2 separate regions of the Homo sapiens genome follow, and region 2 is linked to region 1. The links come from fine-mapping of genetic effects on gene expression. Tissue or cell type: CD4 T cells. Region 1 holds a variant in brackets; the other region holds the start of a gene. All regions are shown on one strand. Distances are from middle to middle.

What was found. PIP is the estimated chance that this variant, and not a neighbour inherited with it, causes the effect.
Region 2: it holds the start of UGCG, and the variant in region 1 is fine-mapped to the expression of UGCG in CD4 T cells (CEDAR, PIP 0.95).

Annotation. Positions count from the first base shown.
Region 1 is chr9:111,928,451-111,936,639 of GRCh38, reverse strand. It overlaps UGCG (UDP-glucose ceramide glucosyltransferase), which reads right to left. Exons shown (of 9, transcript NM_003358.3): 6 at 6,962-7,140; 7 at 5,283-5,369; 8 at 4,281-4,470; 9 at 1,271-3,813. The coding sequence ends at 3,643. MIR4668 (microRNA 4668) reads right to left here and starts at 4,540; the gene lies at 4,471-4,540. The variant C/TC (reference allele first, on the strand shown) is at 3,489.
Region 2 is chr9:111,892,246-111,900,434 of GRCh38, reverse strand. It overlaps UGCG (UDP-glucose ceramide glucosyltransferase), which reads right to left and starts at 3,621. Exons shown (of 9, transcript NM_003358.3): 1 at 3,122-3,621. The coding sequence starts at 3,219. RefSeq lists silencers at 3,177-3,266, 3,377-3,966 and an enhancer at 3,587-4,170.

The DNA.
Region 1 (8,189 bases):
GATAGAGGGGCTACTCCCAGCTCTGCCACCAGCACCATGCCTACCTAACCCTATGATCACAGCTCTCACCGTGGGTGTCTCAGCTTCTTCATTCTAAAATAAGGGTGAGGGATCCTCAAGATCCACCTAGCTATGAAATTCTAAGACATACTCAACTTTGTGTTGATCATTTCTTAAACTGTAGGGTTAGAAGTACACAAATGAGAAGGAATGTTTGTTTACTGGGCCAGATCCCTTTTAGACTGTGTCTTACGGCTCCGATAACAGAATACCATAGACTGGGTGGGTTATAAACAACAAAACTTTCTCAGTTTTGGAGGCTGGAATGTTTAAGATCAAGGCCCTGGCAGATTTAGTGGCTAGTAAAAGCTGACTTTCTGGTTCATAGCTGGTCACCTTTTTGCCGTATCCTCACATGGCGGAAGAGGCAAGAAAGCTCTCTGGGGTTTCCTTTATAAGCATCAATCCCATCCTGACGGCTCTGATCACCTACCAAAGGCCTCACCTTGAAAGACCCTCCTCACATTGGGCATTAGGTTTCAACACAGGAACTACGGAGAGACAAAAATATCAGCTGAGAGCGGATTCTTTCTACCCCGGATTTGTTCTCCAGTTAAGAACATTCTTTTCTCATGGGATGGTGGTAAAACAGGCCTGTAAAGGCTTCCAGCTTGGGAGGGACCTGGCCTTGGAAAGTATGTAAGGTGCATCTCCCATCTGGGTCTCAAGTAATAATGCCACTCCATTCCTTCCTTTGGATTTACATTTTCTAGCCATTAGAGTGGTAAGATCTAAAAGGCTGAGTTCAAGCTGTGAGCCCGGGGGGAGAGGGGCCCAAAGGACCACTGGCTCTTTTCTAAAGGTCATTACGAGCCAGTCATTCTCACAGTAGAATCACGGGTAGAAGAGCTCAGGCCTCACCCAAAATAATTACACCAAAATCTATGTGGGCAGGGCCCAGGGTGTGTGTGTGTGTTGTGTACAGGGCCCAGGGTGTGTGTGTGTGTTGTGTACAGGGCCCAGGGTGTGTGTTGTGTATTTTTTTTTTTTTTTACAAGTTCTCCAGGTGATTTTAACAGGCAACCAATGTAGAAAAGCCATACTTAAGTCACAGGACTGCCTATGTCCTTATTTATTTTACCTATGGCTCAGGTAAAAGGAAGATTTCAAAAGGAATACTTGACAGAACTCTTCTAATAATTCTGATGTGAATGGTGGAACATGCTACTTATAAAAATACAGAAGAACAAAAAATACACTATTGCTAACGTTTTGATTGTATTCAAATTTTTATTTTTTGAACAAAAATTTAAGACAATGATTTTAAATAATAAAACATGGTATATATTCTAGACACTGGTTTTTTTTAAAGATTTATTAAATTTAGACTCCTATAGTTCTGTTGTGATGCTTTCTTCAACATTTATATTATTTCTTACCATTTTATCATCACTCCAAGCTTGCTAAACAAAGAATCTCTCTGTTAAGTGAAGTTTTACATTAAGGAAATACTCCACTAGCACACTGAACAAACCTACAGAACTGTCCTAGTTTATATTTACAAAACACAAGAAGTCTGTCCAGCCATTTTGGTTTTGTTGTTACACTGTCCATACTGAGATCAGCAGAGAGCTAAGTAATACACAAGATTACGCTTCGGCAGTGCAAAGGATGGCATCAACCAAACTTCATTAAACAGACCAACAAGTACAAACATGGTGAGCAAAGTTCAACTCAGGTAATAGTGATTAAAAACAAAACATGTAGTGGGTCACAACCAGACTGGTTTTCACTGTGCAACTTTCCTCAGGGAATAATACCCATTCACAGAAAGAAAGGAATATGCATCCAAGCCTTTGTTCATAAAGAAAATGCCCTTCAAACAAATTCATCATAAGGCTAAAAAAAAAAAAAAAGAAAGAAAAAAGGATGAAGCAGTTTGGCCCAGAGAAAAGCTTAAATATAATGTGTATACATACTTATAGATATGTTGCCATTTAAACCATGGATATAGACATTTGACAATTAAATGAATTGGCTCAGTAAAGTGAAAAAGTGTTTTCTATAAATATGTAGTTATTGCTGATATGCTACACATTATGCTTTGACATGGAGACTGTAGTAACTCAGAATTTAAAGCTGCCATATTGCCAGTGTTAGCCCTGCAGTAGGCATTCCTGTGGACAACATGCCATCCAATCCTGAAGAAAAAGCAAAACACCACTACTTAACAAAGAAAAGGCTTATGCACTGTCCCTTACATTTTTGTTTTTTTTTTTTAAAAAAACAAAACAAAACAGAATCAAGTCCAGTTCACCACAAGTTAAGCACAACCTGGCGAGCAAGTTTAGCGGCATGATGGGGAGAAAACAGTGAGGTACAGCATGCATTTACAACCAGCGCTGATCTAGTCTATTTTGTCATATAAACTTGAATACAAAAATCCAATTTAAATAAGACTAGACTTACTATAATAGTAAACAAACAAAAACAAAAAACAAAAAAAAAAAACACACACAGTAGACTTAGTTTGATACTGATTAATTTTAAGAGTAAACTCATCCTGTCCCCTCTTAATACTCTACTGCAATTTATTGATGGCTAGAATATTTACTGACTTAAAAAAGGTATTAAATACTTGTATCATGAAATTACATTCTTATTAACAATAAGACATACTGTGTAAGAAAATAGCTCATGTGTGAAATGTGTCTGAAATGCATTTTTTCCTTACAACTATCAAAACATCCACTCACACTAAAATGAAACCACTCCCAACCCCCCCTGAAAAAATGTTAAGGGAAGACGGGGTGGGCTGGGGGAGGAGCAAGGAAGGAAAAGATTTAGCTATACTAATTACAGCACAGTGATTAACAATGGTTCAAGACAGAACCAACAAGAGTTGGTCAAAAAGATGCCTTCAATACATGGCTACAATTAAAAACCAAACTCAGCCGCTTTTGGTTCATTGCAGTGAGACCAAAAAAATTATCTCTCACAGATTCATATAAATACTAGACTCCAGCTCTTATATCATTTTTTTTTAAGTTTTTCTGTTTGTTTCTGCAAGGCCTAGCTATCTTATTACAATTTATATTTGCTCTGCAACAACTACAAGAGGTAGGCATAAAGCATGAAAAAGTTTCTCAGTTAGTACCTCGCCATGTGTTGTTCACTGCACAAAACCATTCACTTTGGACATGAATAGTCATTCCTTCTATTATCTTCTAAACTCTAAAGCAAAGCTGCTGCCACCCGTAAATGTTCTAAAAGAGTGTACTCACAAGTAAGAAACTTTCTCTACTGAAGGATACTGTCACAGAGTTTGTTGCAGAGCATCTATATATATATTTATTTATTTATTTTAAAAAAATAAACAACAATGATGAACGAACCCAGGTTCCTAGAACCAATTCTCTTGATTCTCTACTTCCACAAAATAAAGTGTATCATTTGGCCAAGACTACAGATGTGTTTTTTTTTTTTTT[C/TC]ACAGATGCAAGTGCCATGCAAAAATAAATTAAAGAACAGATACCAAAACATACATGTGATAAAACTACAGAAGGTAGATTTTTAAAAGCATTTATATAAACATAATTTATAATACTTCTCTTTTTTCCTTTATATACAGTCACAAAGCTGTAGTTATACATCTAGGATTTCCTCTGCTGTACCCCCACAGCGTAATCTGTAGCGACCAGTTCTCCAGCTTATAGTTGGGTCCCATAATGCAGACAAAAAAATGTATATTGTCATGGATTCGCGGATGAACCAGGCGACTGCATAATCAAGTTTTGAAAAACACAGTGTGCCACCCTAGGAATGGAAAAAAAAATTTTTTAATTTCACTCACTGTCAAACTAAAGACAAGGTTAAAAAATTAAATTCTTGGATTTCACTTTTCTAAGTATACTATGTAAAATCAAGTCTGCTTCCTTATGTAATTTAACTGCCATGTTATACCGTTCAAGAAAATGCTAATTGTTAATGAAGCATTAAAATAACTGCTATCTTAATGTCTTATTAGTTTCAATACTCACTGATTTAATTAACTTCATGTTTTTGGAAACTTAATAAAAGCGATTATATAACCAATAGAAAGTTGCAAATCGACTTAAGTTTTGCATCAACATTCCACTAGAGAAAGTCATGTTCAAACCCGAGACTAACCTACAATGGGAAGCTGAAGAATGGCTCAGATACATTTCCTTCAACTTTTTCTAAATTGAAATAGTTCTAGTTCCACCAAGGGACTGCCAACCTTTTCATGCCTATCCACATACCTGGACACCCCTGAGTTGAATGTAGTCAAATATAAACCATGCCAGGCAATGACACATGAAAAATACCATAATATCCCATCTGAACACATGGTGGGCTGCCCATCCAATAATTAAACTGGCAACAAAGCATTCTGAAATTGGCTCACAAATTATTGTAGCAGGAAGCATGTTAATTCGTAGTTTGGTCCACCTGGAAAAACAAAAAGGATTTTCTTTAAAACAATATCCTGGCTACAAGACAAATCCTTTTTTTTTTCCCTCAAATAATCAATTTTTTTACCCTGTGATAGAAAGACCATTCTCTTTAAACTTTTTTTGTTTTGTTTTTTTTTTTTTACTTGAGACGGGGTTCTGCTCTGTCACCCAGGCTGGAGTGCAGTGGCACTCACTGTAGCTTCAATCTCCCAGGCTCAAGCGATCTTCCCACCTCATCCCACCAAGTAGCTGGGACCACAGGTGTACACGCCACCACACCTGGCTAATTTTTGCATTTTTTGTAGAGACAGGGTTTCACCATTTTGCCCAGGCTGGTCTCAAACTCCTGGGCTCAAGCAGTCCTCTCGCCTTGGCCTCCCAAAGCGCTGGGATTACAGGTGTGAGCCACCACACACAACCTAAAAATTTTTTTTAATGACTCTCTTTTCTATTTTTGTCTAGGATGTCAAAGAAAAATGTCTTTAAATTCATTTGTATGGCCTACGCTCTGATGAATACAGATAATAAAATTTAATCAGCACAGAAAGTTAGAAAATAAAGATCAGCATATTAAAAAATTCAGTCTCAACATTTCTCTAATGAGTGCTTTCAGTGTTATACAGCAAATAAAATACATTTAGACATTAAATTTATCTTAAACACAGACGTTAAACTCTATTTTCTGCAACTAAACAAAAATCTTCAACCTTTAGGTACATTCATTTAACTACATTAAACCTGTAAAAATTACCACCCCCCTCCCCACTTTCCTTTTAACGAAGTATAAAAAGAAAACAGTTGATTTACCTGATCATTCTGGATTGAAACTGAGAAATTGAATATGAGCCAGAGTTTTGCATTGCAACTTGAGTGGACATTGCAAACCTCCAACCTCTGAAAATTAAGATAATTAGAAAATAAGTTATGATGATGAACACATGCAAGCGTAACTGGTTATGCATTCAGTAATCATTATAAAGACCAGGCAACTGCCGGTATTCAGGGTGAGCCCAGCTTTCATGATTAGCACATGACTTAAGGTCTACCATACGTATGGATGTTTTAGCAATTATGCTGGCCCGTGACAGCACCATCTAAGAACTAGAAGAAACTGTACCCACCTTACTTTACAATTTAAGAAACTTAAAATGCAGTCATTTTGAAAAAAAATGGAGAGGGCTCCATATTTAATAGATTAGTCTCTGATGACTACTAACCAAACAACAAGACATGTAAACAGAAAGTGGCATTATGGATCTCATGGGAGACACTAGGAAACCATGAACCACATGAACACAATCATGACAGAATTTGTATTTAAAACACACTTCAGTTTTTAAAAAATTTAAAAGAATTCTCACACAAGGCAGTGATCTCCTTTAAAAACAAGTATTTTAGGCTGGATGCAGTGGCTCATGCCTGTAATCCCAGCACTTTGGGAGGCTGAGGCGGGCGGATCACGAGGTCAGGAGTTCAAGACTAGCCTGGCCAACATGGTGAAACCCCGCCTCTACTAACATACAAAAAAAAGTAGCTGAGTGTGGCGGCGGGTGCCTATAATCCCAGCTACTTGGGAGGCTGAGGCAGGAGAATCGTTTGAACCCAGGAGGCGGAGACTGCAGTGAGCCGAGATTGCGCCACTGCACTCCAGCCTGGATGTCAGGGCGAGACTGTCTCAAAAAAAAAAAAAAAAACCAAAACAAAACAAGTATTTTGTGATAGAGAAATGCTAAGTCAGTCATATGAATCTTTCAGTGGCTTCTTAGCAAAGTATCATATAATTCACTGACAAATTTCAAATTTTGAAATGATAGTCTTTAAATTTTCACCTACTAGTTTATGACTGCACTGATAGTTTTAATTCTTCTAAAACACAGAAATTTGTATCTATATAGTAAAAATTCTAAACACAGAGAAACTTACTTTTAATCGCTTTAAAACACATTAATTTGAAAAATGTAGAGGAATCAGAACATTTACCTTCTTCATTAGTACATATCTACAATTCTATAATTAGAATATGAATTACTCTATAAAATTATTGATCTGCTGGGTGTGGTGGCTCATACCTGTAATCCCAGCACTTTAGGAGGCCGAGGTGGGCAGATCACTTGAGTTCAGGAGTTCAAGACCAGCCTGGCCAACATGAAGAAACCCCATCTCTACTAAAAATACAAAAATTAGTGTGCATGGTGGTACATGCCTGTAGTCCCAGGTGCTCTGGTGGCTGAGGCATGAGAATCACCTGAACCCGGGAGGCAGAGGCTACAGTGAGCCAAGATCGCGCCACTGCACTCCAGCCTAGGTGACAGAGCAAGACTCTGTCTCAAAAACAAACAAAATAATAAAATTATTGACCTATTCTGTACTTACTAGCAAAAAAAATAAAATTAAATTAAAAAGCCCTAATCTATAGGTTGAACAAAAAGAATAAACCAACAGAAGTTAGGTAATAAAAATACTATGGCTTCATTTAGTTGTCTTACCGGTCAGCTATCGCTTTGGCCATAAAGTAATCTTCGGCAATGTACTGAGCAAAAGCTATAAGTCCTCCTGCTTGATCCAACACATCTTTTCTCATTAAACAAGACATTCCTGTCACACATTTGAAACCAGTTACATTGGCAGAGATATAGTATCTTGGATGTGAAGTTCCAAAATATACCTGCCCAAAAAACCACAAACGTGTATGATTAGAATTTCATGTTAAAAGCATGGTGTTCACGAACTGTTTTTCCCAATGGTTTTTTTATAAGTATGATTGAGTGAATATCTTATTATTCTTACGTAGACTACCTGAATAAAAAGTGGTAGACAATATTGCTTTCATAGAGCAAGCACAGTTAGTAAGCTAAAAATGCATCCAAATAAAACTTAATTTAGATACAAAATAAGGTAAAAATATCACTCATTGATATATAAAATATTAACAAATATTCAATGTATCTTGTTTTTAGGGTGTTCATGTAAATATACACACACATCTACTTTACTGGGATCAATATACATATTTGTATGTTACGTATATGTGTGTATATATACATGCATGCATACACACACCACCCATAGGTATATCAACCTTCGGGACAATCCTATTTTTTTGGGGGGTGGGGGGTGGGGAGGGGACACAATCCTATTTCTTAATTCCTTTTCTTGCATCCTTTTGTAGCTAGCTGCTCCCTCTCCCTTAGTCACTAAGATTCTTCCCAATTTCTCCATTTTTTTCAATGTATTTTTCATAACGGGGATACTAAAATTCTCTCATCCGCTACTGCCATTTCTCTGCATATACTCTGAAGTCATAAGATATATACGCTGATAAATCAATGGTAGAAAAGGACTGTTATTACCCTACTTAGTAGACATAAAATCCTATTTATTATTTACACCTCAGATATGTTGCCTTTTCTAATTAGCCTGAAATAAAGAGTAGTCATCTTTCTTAGGAGTTACACACACAGTGCAGAGCAAGAGAATTCTAAGGGGCAATTATGATTATGATTCTTGCTACCTACCCTGAACCCAGACTCCAGTGAAGCCCTAGTGTTTGTGGGACTGAACTGAACCTGACTTCTAAGAACAGAGGCACATATCTTAATTCCTTAGTAGTTATTGAGGTCTTAGGAATGAGATGTTAGTCACTGAGCTGAATGTGCTCTTTACAGTTGAGAATGATTAATTCTAAGTATGGCAGAGTGACTTCCAGAGATTAAA
Region 2 (8,189 bases), 36 kb after region 1:
TTGAGGGTAGCTAATATTTAAGGACACATAAATTATTTCCACACTAGCCTAGCACCTCCAGTCGAAAGATAAAGCCTGATGATAAACATTAGGACCTTATGTACACAGGGAAATAATAATAATATGAGGTGGATGGGATAGGGAAGAGAGCATGAAGCAAGGTTTCTGCTTAGATCACTTCATCACGCAGCAACGTGGCTCCCAAGGGCTAGAAGAGAAACACTACCATCAGGTCTAGGCTTTTATACAATTTCACCTTAGGCCCCAACCTATCAAGCCACACTAGCACTTACCATTAAAAAAAAAAAAAAAAATTAACCCATAAAGGCTATTTAACTTGCCAAGGCTATACTCTTTAGTTATTTTTAGGAAATCTTCAATCTCAACAATAAGACTCTTGAATTTGAAATGTCTCTAATCTGAATGTTACCTTTGACATTGTTGGCAGAAATCCTACAAACATCTGCCATCTAAAATAGGTTAAGAAAGGGCAATAGAAGCTTTGAAACATACCCAAGTATAAAGCAGAATTTAGTTTATAATAAAAATATTTCAAAACAGTGGAATAATCAAATAATCATCTGATAAGTAATTCTGGACAAGTCTCTAAATATTTAGAAGAAACTATAATTAGGGCTCTAGCTCTCATATAACGAAGTAAAATACTGGGTGAATTCAGGGTAATATGTGAAAAAATTAAGAAAAAAATACTAAGAGGAAGCAGAGACTAACATATATAATAATTTGGAGGAATAAGGAAGATATAAAAATTATAACAGAGTTAGAAAATGTAAAAGAAACGGAAAGACCTATCTACCTAAAACACACATGCACACACACTTTTCTCCATGTCAAATATATGTACAAAGTTAAAAGACAAAAAACAGACTGGGGAAAAGAATGCTACATGTGACAGAAAACAACCTTTATATCAGAAAGATGAATTCAGCAACAGATTGCAGCACAGGCAAAGGATTATGAGTATGTAATTTACATCTAAATGTAACTAGCATATAAACATATTTTAAAAGTGCTCAATGTAACTTTAAAGGAATGAAAATAGAAACAGAAAACAGTGAAATGCCTGCTACTTAGTGTTTGTAAGGCAAAATGGGGCCATCATACAATGTTACCAGGACTGTGAATATACATAACATTTCCATGGGGCCAATATGTATCAAAGTTTAAAATGTGCACCACTTCTGGCCCAATAATTCCTCTTTCGGAAATATAAATGAGATCATTTCTCAAAGATGTATGCATATAAATTCATCACAGTGTTCTTTGTAATCTAGATAAATTGGAAACAACCTAAACATCCATCAGTAATAATAAATAAATCTTGGTACCTGGTAAACTAAAATATCATGCATCTATTACAAATGATGTAGAGATCATACAGATATTGACATGCAAAAAACGGTCAAGACATTTTACAGGACAGTTCCATGTGAACAGGGGCCTTGTATGTTTGTTCTTCACTCTTCCAGCAACTAGAACAGTGCCTTGCACAAAACGGCTTTTCAATAAACATTTATTAAACAGATGAACTTTAAAGCAGGTTACAGAACAATAATCATAATATAGTCCTTTTCTCTCTTCCCTCTTCCCCTCCCTCCTTCTCTCTCTCTCACACACACACACAGATTGGAAGGATAGTCACAAAAGGTTAACAAGGTAATGTAGTTTTGGTGTGTGCATATTTTAATTTTCTCCATCTCTCTCTATTGCATAAATTCCTTACACAGTAAGCATTTTTTATTTTTATGACGGTAAAAAGTAACAATTTTTTTAAAGAAAAAGAACTCACATATTTTAAATGAACTCCAGAATGTGCTGTGACTAAGCTCACCAACTCCAAAAACTAAAGTCAACAATATCCAAGTGGCATGTTTTCTTTCACTTTCAAAGAAATATCAGTATAACCTGTACCAGCATCATCTTTCTCAGTACCAGGAAATGCCACACTATACTAATAAAATACAGTGTTTCCAAAAGCAAAGGCACACTTTTTCCGCAGTAAAAAGGAAAAAAAAAAAACCAAAAAACTAAAAGTAACTAATTTCTTAAAGTCTCTTCCACTAACATACACTCTATTCTAGTTCATGGTAACGATTACTATATACAATTGCTCTTTTCTCCCCCCAGACTAAAAATCCAAGTGAATCGATATCAGTAATGTGCTCTATATAATTTTTTCATTTCTTTACAGAGGCAGATTTCACCTTAAACAGTGGATATACCAAACTAGCCACATAACCCATGTCTCTATTCACGCCATCACCCAGTTCTATTTTACTTACACGCTTCGTCACAATCTCATAACCTTATTTAGATTTTATCTGCTCCTTCCTTCTAGAATGTAAGACTCATGAGGACAGGAATTCTGTCCTGCTCACCACCATGTCCCCTGGCCAATAACAGTGAATGGTATCTAGTAGGCCTCAAGAAGTATTTGTTAAACAAAAATGAAAAGATGTGGCCGGCACGGGGAGAGTACAAATCTACATAAAACAATAAAACGAGGAACTGAAAAAAGGAAAGAAAACCACGCTGAGATGTACAAGCTGACAGGACTCAAAGCTATCATGCCAGCTCGGAGGTTTGGTGGACATTTTTCAGGGTGGACAGGTGCTTCACACCTATCTAAGCGCATAGAGCCCTTCCAGGAAGAAGAAAATCCACAGAGAGGTGTCCAGATAGCTGTGAGCAGCTCCCAGAAAAGTGGACACAATCACCACCCTAACAGAAACGTGGCCCAGGTCGGGAGAAAAAAACAATACACCATACATCTCGGCCCAGATGAAAAATTACACGAATCCCCAGCACAATCAAACCAAGCCACCACCTTCAGCCTGACACGTAAGAGCAGTCTCCTTTAGCCTGGCTGGGCAGTCGCCTGCAACCCAGCAAACCCTTCCCACGCCCAACACTTTTCCCTCGCAAAGACCACCGCCACCGCCGGTCCGAGGGGCGAGGGAACGGGGGGAACAGCCTGACGATCAGCTTTCTCCACCCCCGCCCGAGCCCAGTCCCCTTCAAAGCGCAAACGTTTCCCATTCTCGCCTGTCTCCGAGGCCCGGACCCCTGCCCCGAGCCCCTCCTGCGGTCCCTCACTCACGTGTAGATGATAGCCATGAAATGCATCAGCCACAGCACCAAGAAGAGGACGAACCCGAAGACGGCCATTCCCTCCAAGGCCAGGTCCAGCAGCGCCATCCCCCGGCCCGCCGGACCGGCCCGGCCCGCTGCGGCCGCCAACACGGACAACGCTCCCGCAGGAGGAGGACAGGGTGGGCGCCCGGTGCGGGGGCGCGGGAGGCGAGAGGAAGGTGGGGAGAGGAAAGGGCGGAGGGGGGTGGGGACGGAAGGGGCGGGCAGGGCCTGCGCGCCCCCGCCCGCGCGCTCTCGCCTGCGCGCTGTCTTCGGCGCGCTCGCGGGCGGCTGCGGGTGCTGCGGTCTCCCGGCTCTGGTCGGGGCGACCGCGGTCCCGCGCTCCGGTTCGCCTCTCCCGAGCCTCGCGGCCGCCCACCAGACCCTGCGCGCGGGCACCTCCGCCGCCTCTCCGTCTCGCCGCCGGGCTCCCGGCCGAGCAGCTCCACCGCCGCAGCTCCGCGCACTAATCAAAACCGGCGGCTCGCGCCCCACTCCTCGGCGCGTCCCGCCCCCGGAACCGCGGCGCCCGCCTCTCCCAGGGGCGGTGCCCCCATCGGTCCACGCCCACCCTGTCGCCCGCGCGCCCGCTGCGGCGCCGGCGAGAGCGCGCCGGGGAGATCGTGTCCTGCTGCCCGCAGGACGCAGGCCGGGCTTCCTCCGGCTCCTCGCTCCCGCTGCCGCCCACCTAGGCGGAAAGCGCTGCAGCCCTGGGCCGGGCTCCCTCGGTGTCGGTGGCAGCTCGGGACCCTGTGCCTGGCTGGAGGCTGCTCTCTCTCCGTCTGGCCCTGCTGTTCCTGGGTGCCCCAGAAAAAGACACGGGTTCCGGGCAGCTGCCGGAGCTTGTCTAGAAATCCAACTTCCAACGCCGCGTCTGCAGCCTCCCCGCCGGGCACTGCTACTGCTCGGAGCAGCCAGGCCCTCCAGGCCACGTTCCTGGGCGCAAGGGATGCCCATTGCCTTCCCTCTTACTGCTTTTAATGCTGTGGGATCTTGGATCAAAAGGGACCGGAGAGTAAAATAATCTCCATGCGCCTCACAGATCTCTAAGCGCCTTAGCGACCGTGTGTATTATAAAAAGAAATTCTCAAATTCAGAATTAAAGAATCAGTTGATATTGAAATTCCCTAAGACTGCCATCCAATACGGTAGCCGCATGTGGCTAAGTGAGGGTTGGAAAGGCAGCTTGCCACTCTGTGGAGTAAACAGTACACCAGATGTGGAAGACCATCTCGTTAGTAAATTTTATATTGATTGCATGTTGAAAAGGTAATATTTTGGACATACTACATTAAATTAGGTAAATTATTAAGTTAATTTCTCTTTTTAAATACTTTGGCTAGCTACTAGAAAATTTTAATTGTACGTGTGGACAGCACAGCTCTAAAATGGGAAGAAATGTCACTTTGGGTAGTAAGGTAACTAAGTATTTGTCCTAATTTTAAGTCATCCCAAGAAGATGCTAGTACTCAATGTTTGTGTTTCTTCAATCTAGATGAGTTTATACTATTTCTGCATTGTTTTATGTTTATTGTTGCAAGTGATTTCCTTTTAAATAATCCATGACCTCCCTTGAGATATTTCAGAATTGAATTCAATTTTGAAAAGAAGTTGTGGCTGGGCGCGGTGGCTCACACCTGTAGTCCCAGCACTTTGGGAGGCGGAGGCAGGTGGAGCATGAGGTCAGGAGTTCAAGACCGGCCTGGCCTAGATGGTGAAACCCCGTCTCTACTAAAAATACAAAGAATTAGCCGGGCGTGGTGGCAGGCGCCTGTAATCCCAGCTACTCCGGAGGCTGAGGCAGAGAATTGCTTAAACCTGGAGGGGCGGAGGTTGCAGTGAGCCGAGATCGCGCCACTGCACTCCAGCCTGGGCGACAGAGCGAGACTCTGTCTCGAAAAAAAATAGATGAATTTAAAAAAAAGAAAAGAAGTTGTTTATTATTGCTGTTTATGGTAGTTAATAGTCACTGAATGATCTACCTCAATCTGCAATTAAATGACAAACTACAACTAGAAGAGTTAATGTCCGAACCATTCCTCGATTAACATCCTTGGCTCCACTGGTGCAGAATCAGTGGGAAAGAACAATGCTTCAAAATCAAATTCCCACTGTTGAGAGTTACTGGCTGATAAAAATAGCAGGATGGAGGGCCAGGCGCAGTGGCTCATGCCTGTAATCCCAGCAGTTTGGGAGACTCAGGTAGGAGGATTGCTTGAGGCCAGGAGTTTGAGACCAGCCTGGGCAACATGATGAAACCCTGTCTCTACAAAAAAAAAAAAAAAAAAAAATTAGCCAGGCATGGTTATGGCACCTATAGTCCCAGCTACCGGGAAGGCTGAGGTGGTAGGATCACCTGATCCTGGGAAGTGGCGGCTGCAGTGAGCTGTGATCGCGCCACTTAACTCCAGCCTGGGTGACAGTGAGTCCCTGTCTTAAAAAAAAGTGGAATAGAATTCTAACATCGAAATAACGTTCCAAACAAAAATTTACGATTGTAGTTAATTCTAAGGCACACTTCAAAAAAACACTTTAACAAATTTTAATTTCTCTGAAATGGGAATGCATCTCACAGTCAATGCCATCTTAGAGTTAATTGGCGTTTTTTCTTTTTTTTTTTTTTTTTTTTGAGGTGGAGTCTCGCTCTGTCGCCAAGGCTGGAGTGCAGTGGCGTGATCTAGGCTCACAGGAACCTCCGCCTCCTGAGTTCAAGCAATTCTCCTGTCTCACCCTCCCCAGTAGCTGGGACTACATTTGCACACCACCACACCCGGCTAATTTTTGTGTTTTTAGTAGAGACGGGGTTTCACCATATTGTTCAGGCTAGTCTCGAACTCCTGACCTCGTGATCCACCTGCCTCGGCCTCCCAAAGTGCTGGGATTACAGGCGTGAGTCACCGTGCCCAGCCAATGGCTTGTGGTTTTCTTTTACTCAAATATAAAATAATAGTGCATCTTAGTGATATATAAAATAATGCTGCATCTTATCATTAAATGCCCTCTTAGATTTGAGGAACACCAATTGCTTAATTTAAGCATTGTTTTATATTCTGCATTTTTTCAAAAATGTTTTCTGGAACCTTACAACAAAGGATTTTATACAGTATGACCAATAACACAAAAAAAGAGGCCAAAGAAATGTGAAAGTAGATATTCTTAAGAGTTAACAAATTTGCTAAATTGAGTATAATCAGTAGATTAAAGATCAGTTATATTATACTTGACCCTAGTTAAACTATGTTTACCCAAACTTCGTTTTAAAACAGCTTTAGAAAAGGGAAGAGTATGAAGACAGTATAAAGATCTGTGGTTGCCATGGAGCAGAGGAAAGAGGGACAAATAGATGACAGGATTTTTAGGGCTGTGAGTGAAACTATTCTGTATGATCCTATAATAGTGTATACATGTCATATATTTGGCAAACCCCGTAGAAAATACACCACCAAGAGTGAACCCTAATGTAAGCTATGGACTTTAGGTGATAATGGTGTGTTAATGTAGGTCCATCAGTTGTAACGAATATGGTGCTCTGGTGCAAGATGTTAATAGTGGAGGAGGCTGGTGGAGGGAATGGCAGTGGGTATATGGGAACCTTCTGTACTTTCTGCTCAGTTTTGCTGTGAACCTAAAACTACTCTAAAAAGTAAATTCTTAAAAAAAATTAGTGAGTGTTCCACTAAAGGTGTTCTACTTATATATGTATACAAATATGTGTATAACATTGGAAATGCTATAAATGTCTGAATAAGATATACCAGTTTGCGGCTGGGCGCGGTGGCTCAGGCCTGTAATTGCAGCACTGTGGGAGGCCAAGGTGGGAGGATCTCAAGCCAGCCTGGGCAACATGGCGAAACCCTGTTTCTACAAAAAATAGAAAAATTAGCTGGGCGTGGTGGCAGGCAACGTGGTAAAACCCTGTTTCTACAAAAAATACAAAATCTAGCCAGGCATGGTGGTGGGTACCTGTAATTCCAGCTACTTGGGAGGCTGAGGCAGGAGAATCACTTGAACCTGGTAGGCAGAGGTTGCAGTGAGCCAAGATCATGCCACTGCACTCCAGCTTGGGTGCCAGAGCGAGACTCTGACTTAAAAAAAAAAAAATTACCAGTTTGCCATCAGATCCCAGGATTTAGCACCTTGTGGGCACTTAAATATTTGTTGACTGAATGAATAGATAAAATGTTTATTTATCCATTGACAGAAGTCACTGGAAAAATTTCAGTGACTTCTGAAATTTTCTGGAAAAACTTTCTGGAAAAATTTCTCAGCTTTCTCCTTTGTCTGTAAAGATTTTTAAATGGTTTTTCGTTGTGAGAAAAATACACATTAACTTCCATACCTCCTCCTTTATCTTATAAAATTAAGCTAAAGAGTTAGAGTAATTACATATTAGTTCAACTAATCATGTCCTGAAGACCTGCTCCAAAGCCCATACTCTACTTGACAGTCAACAACATAATTTTCGTCTCAATATCACATATTTTCCATCTTTGTCATTGTTATAAATAATTTTTCATGTAAACATTTTAAACATCACAATCCAGTTTTCTATGGTGAGTGTATTATTATTTTTAAAAGATAGGCATACTGTAAATTTTCAGCCCTATAAAAACTTAAAAAATAAGGTGAAAACAAGGTGATCCTCCAGAAATTGAGTAAATTTGAAGTTTCATAAACAAAGAATCAATTGACGTGAAATTTGTGGTGCTAATGCCAAGAAAAAAGTAATTCTTGTCTTTTTTCTAAACATGTTTAGAATTAAGTAGAAAAATACCTTAACTATCAGCTCAGGTGATTAACTTACATTGGTTTGTTATGCATGAAATGGTAACTTTGTAAAAGCCTTCAGATCCTAAGATACTGTGTTACTGTAAATTGCCTTTAAATGATACAAAGATTCCAGGCAAATTATCAGTTCAGGGCCTGATCTTGATAAACCACTGGTATCCTGTGTTTATATATGTGGGTGTGGTCCAGGGGAGTGACTAGAGTTTACTAGAGTTCATGTTCTTCTCAGCTGCTGTGTTCTTCTCAGC